Regions from separate parts of the Homo sapiens genome. Here region 2 is linked to region 1. Evidence: fine-mapped expression QTL. A gene starts in region 1. The other region holds a variant in brackets. All regions are shown on one strand. Distances are from middle to middle.

Region 1 (2,876 bases):
CATTGTGTGACCTTGAATTAAGCACTTCATCTTTATGTTTGTCTTCCTCTGTTTAAAAGAGAGAGAGAGAGAGAGAGATAAGAACACCTACCTCAGAGGACCATGGTAAAAATTAAAGATAGAATACGGTGAACTGCCTTGCATCGGATGTGCTGGCACTGGCCAATGCACAATAAACGCCTGTCCCTTCTAGACTAAAAATGAACACTTAATTGTGGTAAACTATTAATAAGATTCACCGGCCAACTGTCCTATGAAAAAGTCAGAGGCACTGTAGTCTCTTCGTAGCTCTCGTTCTCTCCAGCACAACAGCCCATGCTAGGAAGTCTAGAAAAGCAGTAACTTATCTCATTCCTTAAATTAAACAGAGGTTTCTAAATGCTTTGGTACTGTGGGGACCCAAATTATCCCTTGATACTGCCCCCCTATTATCCACTATTAAGCTTTAAAAAGGCGAGAGATTAAATATTGTGCCCACATTTTACAGTCATTCGCGTTCCCGTTTCAAATTAAAGGGAGGAAAACGCGTTAAAATTAGGCCTCCGACCTTCAGACCAGCCTGTGGGCTTTTTTAAGTCATAAAACTCGCGGAGGTGGAAGGCCCCGGGGAGGAAGAGGGGTGCATTCTAGAGCTTTCGGGCCGACCCCAATTTCTCGTTGGCGACGAATGCTAACCACGTGTCGCCATTTTGTGTTCAGGAAACATGGCGGCCGCCCCAAGGGTAAGGAACAGGGGAGGCGGAGTAGCGCCACGTTAGCCGCTTTCCCTGAGAGATTGTGAAGCACGTTGCGCACGGGGCCCTTTCTGGTCTGGCTTAGCCCAAGGAGGAAGGGGAAAAGGCAGAAATCACAACTCATAGGCCAGCGTCTTGAGCGACACTTCCTCAGCGGGAAGAACCGGCAAAAAAGGCCTTCCAAGATGGCGGGCCCTGACGGGGCCGCCCCCCTTGAGCCTGGCGCAGTGGCTGCGCCCATGGGCCCGAAAAGCAGCCGCGGGAGCCCAGGCCGCGCGGGGAAAGCCGCAGAAACGTCCTGAAGCCCTGGCCGGCAGCCCCTGAACAAACGAGGCCTCCACAGGCGTACACTATTGTTTCTAATGTCGGAAAAGGGTGCCGCGGTGGAAACGACACAAGGGCAGGAGGTGGGGTTTCTGTGGCTTTAACCGAAAGAAACTTGCGAAACGCAAACAAAGCATTATGTAAATGGACGCCATTCTTTTTAGGACCACGTTTCTAGCACGCCCCACAAACAGCAGAGCCGCGATTCGGCAGGCGGCCGTGAGTGGGTTTCGGTCTTTCTGCCCACCGGCCGCCGCCGGGGAGCAGGAGCTGGGGTGGGGGATCCATGCAGGGCGCCCGGACGCCGGGGACGAAAGGGCCCCACGTGCCCGCCCGCGCGCACCCGCTCCGCAGGCCTCGCCTCGCCGCCCCTCCCCCCCGGAAGAGGGCTGCTGCCCCTCCCATCCCCCCACACCCTCGCGCACGCGCTCTGGTCACCTCACGCGCATGTTTTAAACCCGCGGCGTCCCGGCTTGTGCCTGCAGTTTCCGCCGGGGCTGCCCATGTCGTTCCGCGCACGAGCCCCTCATGTAGGGCAGGAAAATAATGTCTATCCCGCATACACAGCACTAGTATTTTCAGTCACCCGCCAGTGCCGTTAGAGTTAATAAAATACGTCATCATTTTAAAACTTTGCCGGACTCACAGCTTCCGCCCATCGTGCGCTTCATTTTCACTACTGCAGTGTCAGAAGGTTTTTTTTTTAAGGACCATGTAAGGGTTGGCGCAATCTTGTGACCTAAAAAAGACGGGTCCTCATTTTTTTTCAAGGGGTCCTGCGCAGCAAGCACTTCCGGGGTCAGAGGGTACGCGGGGTTGAAAGCGGGCTTCCCGCCCCGCCCAGACCGCCGAGGCTGCCGCCGGAGTCGCCACCGCCGCGCCCTCGCCCACCCGCCCGCCCGCCGCTCCCGGCCCCGCTCGCCCCCTCCGCCGCCGCCGCCCGCCCCTGCGACTACGCTGCGGCCTCCCGCCCGCTCCCGCTCGCTCCCGCGGCCCTCGCTCGCCTCGCGCCGGCAGTTTTGGGCCTACACCTCCCCTCCCCCCGCCAGCCGCCAAAGACTTGACCACGTAACGAGCCCAACTCCCCCGAACGCCGCCCGCCGCTCGCCATGGATGCCGGTGTGACTGAAAGTGGACTAAATGTGACTCTCACCATTCGGCTTCTTATGCACGGAAAGGAAGTAGGAAGCATCATTGGGAAGAAAGGGGAGTCGGTTAAGAGGATCCGCGAGGAGAGTGGCGCGCGGATCAACATCTCGGAGGGGAATTGTCCGGAGAGAATCATCACTCTGACCGGCCCCACCAATGCCATCTTTAAGGCTTTCGCTATGATCATCGACAAGCTGGAGGAAGATATCAACAGCTCCATGACCAACAGTACCGCGGCCAGCAGGCCCCCGGTCACCCTGAGGCTGGTGGTGCCGGCCACCCAGTGCGGCTCCCTGATTGGGAAAGGCGGGTGTAAGATCAAAGAGATCCGCGAGAGTACGGGGGCGCAGGTCCAGGTGGCGGGGGATATGCTGCCCAACTCCACCGAGCGGGCCATCACCATCGCTGGCGTGCCGCAGTCTGTCACCGAGTGTGTCAAGCAGATTTGCCTGGTCATGCTGGAGACGCTCTCCCAGTCTCCGCAAGGGAGAGTCATGACCATTCCGTACCAGCCCATGCCGGCCAGCTCCCCAGTCATCTGCGCGGGCGGCCAAGATCGGTGCAGCGACGCTGCGGGCTACCCCCATGCCACCCATGACCTGGAGGGACCACCTCTAGATGCCTACTCGATTCAAGGACAACACACCATTTCTCCGCTCGATCTGGCCA
Region 2 (2,901 bases), 120 kb before region 1:
CTCGCACTGCTGTTTTCCTCCTAGGTCTTCTCTGCGCCTTTGGTTTCTGTATCCCAAGTTTCTGGGTCTTCTGCCACTACGACCACTCCCCTCTGTCCTTTGTGGGTTCCTCTCTCCCTGGATACTCACAGATGTGGCTCCCTGAGGCTCTGTCTACAGGCCATTCCCCCTCATTCCACACACTCTCCAGGCCAGGGACACCCCTCTCTGCACCGCTTACCCATCCTCTCCCCACTGCCCCAGCTGCCCACCTTACATGTCTGCCTACGAGTCCACTTTCAACAGTGAACATGCTGTCTTCTCACCAGACACCCTCTGCCTCCTGTGTTTTTTGTTTGTTTCGTCACCTAGGCTGAAATGCCATGGCTCCCTGAAGCCTTGACCTCCCGGGCTGAAGCAATCCTCCCACCTCAGCTCCAGTTCCACCTTAGAGGGGATCAGAGGTGCACACCACCACATCTGCCTAATTCTCTTAAATTTTTTTTTTTTTTTGGTAAAGACAGGGTCTCCCTACATTGCCCAGGCTGGTCTCTAACTCCTGGGCTCAAGCAATCCTCCCGCCTTGGCCTCCCAAAGTGCCAGGATTACAGGCATGAGCCACCACACCTGGCTCTCTGTGTTCTTTATCTGGCAATGGCACTACTATCTAGCCAGCCCTCGGAGTCACAGACACAGGGGGCTTCCTCACCTCCACCCCTTTCTCACGGCCCCACCTGGACTGCTGGGTCGCCAGTGCCCTCAGCTCCTCCTCCTGAGTCTCTCTCCTGCCTCCATGCCTCTTCACACCCTGGCCTCAGGGCACCCTGCTGAGGTCGGTAGTCATCCTACAGGACTCCTTGCCTCCTGCCTCCTCTCCATTAATCCACCCTCCTCAGGCCACCAGAGTCATCTTCCAAAGATGTAAGTCTGCTCATGCCATTCTGCTCAAAATTCCTCCATGGCTCTTCATCCCAAAATAAAATCTTGACACCCAACAAGACTCACGAAGTCCCCCTCCCTAGTTCATGCTCTACCTATACAAAATGGCGTGTAGCTCCCCAAACAGGACGGGCTTTCTCATACCTTTTCACAAGCCACTCAGCCAGATGAGCCCTCTGACACCCCTGTTCTCCTGGCAAACACTGAGAAGTCAACTAAGACACTACCACCTCCAGGAAGTCTCCTTTGATTTCCCTAGCAAACTCAGGGTCTCCCTCCTCTAAGGTGCTATCATAAGGGACTGCCAGGCCCAGCTCCTCTCTGAGTTGCAGCACTGGTACAGTCTAAACATGAAAGTCCCGGTGTTTCTTGGCCTTTGGTCTCATCCACAACCTGCACATCCTCCAGCCCAGGCTGTCCTCACCTTTTTCCCATGAAGCATTGCCTGATCTTCCTCAGCAATTGCTTCTGCCTCGATGGCTTTGAATATCAGGCCTGGCAGTGCTCTTTAACTGCAGATGAGCAGCATTCAAAGTTGCCTTTTTTTGGCCGGGCACAGTGGCTCATGCCTGTAATCCCAACACTTTGGAAGGCCGAGGCGGGCAGATCACCTGAGGTCAGGAGTTCGAGACCAGCCTGGCCAACATGGTGAAACCCTGTCTCTACTAAAAATACAAAAATTTGCCAAGTGTGGTGGTGGGCACCTGCAATCCCAGCTACTTGGGAGGCTGAGGCAGGAGAATTGCTTGAACCTGGGAGGTGGAGGTTGCAGTGAGCTGAGATCATGTCACTGGACTCCAGCTTGGGTGACAGAGTAAGACTCTGCCT[CA/C]AAAAAAAAAAGTTGCTTTTTTTTACTGTACTCATAGTAAGAAAGACATTTTTCATCATAATCCAGTACACATATCCATGAAGATATATGTAGCTAAAACAAAATGTATTTACTATGTGTAATATACTCTGATATTTTCTATTTGGGGCCACTTCTTTTTTAACTCTTTTAATGACACTGAAAACTAATCTCCCAACCCACTAATTGATCCCCACCCACCATTTGGAAAACTGCTATAGCCAGCAGGGATGACTAAGGGCTCCCAGCAAGGGATCAATGTGATTAGAATAGAACGTTAGGACCCTGCCTCTCAAATGTTCTAAGGCGCAGGATCGTTTTGTAAATTTCCAATCTGTCACATACTTTACTATTTAAAAACACAATAAGAATGAATTATCTGAAGGTAAAATAACAAAGATATTTAAAAATGCAAGTCTAGATTCATTATAATTAGATTCAACAGACAGTGCGGGGTGCTAAGAGCATCAGGTGCAAGAATGTTTGGGGAGGCCGGAGATGTGAGGCGGCTTTGCCAGCCTTAGGATGCCCACAAGCCCTTGACATGTAGCCAAGCCAGCCCTGCCAATCTCCGTCCTGGAGCATTTGAACTTGCATCATCTGGGGGAGCTTTGCTGAGGAGAAAGGTGCCTCTGCGCAGTCTTTGGCCTTGTCAAGAGGGCCAGGCTGCCTAAATTCAACTCCTGACTCAGCCACTAACTGGCTGCAAGCTGTGGACAAATGACTTAATTCTTTCAAGCCTTGGTTTCCTCCTAGGATTGTCCTGGGAGATTATTCAAGCAATCCGTACCATGGGGCTTAGCCAGTACTGCACCTGGTTACACTCGACCCTCTTGCTTTCATGGCTGTGATTCGGTTGCTGTCTTCTAGGTTTTCTTTACCATTTTTTTTTTTTGAGACGGAGTCTCACACTGTCACCCAGGCTGGAGTGCAGTGGCGCGATCTCGGCTCACTGCAACCTCCGCCTCCCGGGTTCAAGAGATTCTCCTGCCTCAGCCTCCCCAGTCGCTGAGATTATAGGCGCCCACCACCACGCCTGGCTAATTTTTTGTATTTTTAGTAGACATGGAGTTTCACTATGTTGGTCAGGCTGGTCTCCAACTCTTGACCTCGTGATCCTCCTGCCTCAGCCTCCC

Evidence for each region. PIP is the estimated chance that this variant, and not a neighbour inherited with it, causes the effect.
Region 2: its variant is fine-mapped to the expression of PCBP1 in whole blood (TOPMed, PIP 0.98).

Annotation. Positions count from the first base shown.
Region 1 is chr2:70,085,577-70,088,452 of GRCh38, forward strand. It overlaps PCBP1 (poly(rC) binding protein 1), which reads left to right and starts at 1,901. Exons shown (of 1, transcript NM_006196.4): 1 at 1,901-2,876. The coding sequence starts at 2,168. PCBP1-AS1 (PCBP1 antisense RNA 1) reads right to left here and starts at 1,439. Exons shown (of 11, transcript NR_033872.1): 1 at 1,402-1,439; 2 at 1-48. It also overlaps a transcript of ASPRV1 not described here. RefSeq lists enhancers at 498-637, 778-867, 908-1,117, 2,323-2,876 and silencers at 1,328-1,477, 1,928-1,987.
Region 2 is chr2:69,969,420-69,972,320 of GRCh38, forward strand. The region is part of intron 9 of PCBP1-AS1 (PCBP1 antisense RNA 1); the gene reads right to left. It also overlaps a transcript of ASPRV1 not described here. Among named protein-coding and RNA genes, the nearest start is that of ASPRV1, 9.2 kb to the left of the region's middle. RefSeq lists an enhancer at 2,734-2,901. The variant CA/C (reference allele first, on the strand shown) is at 1,747.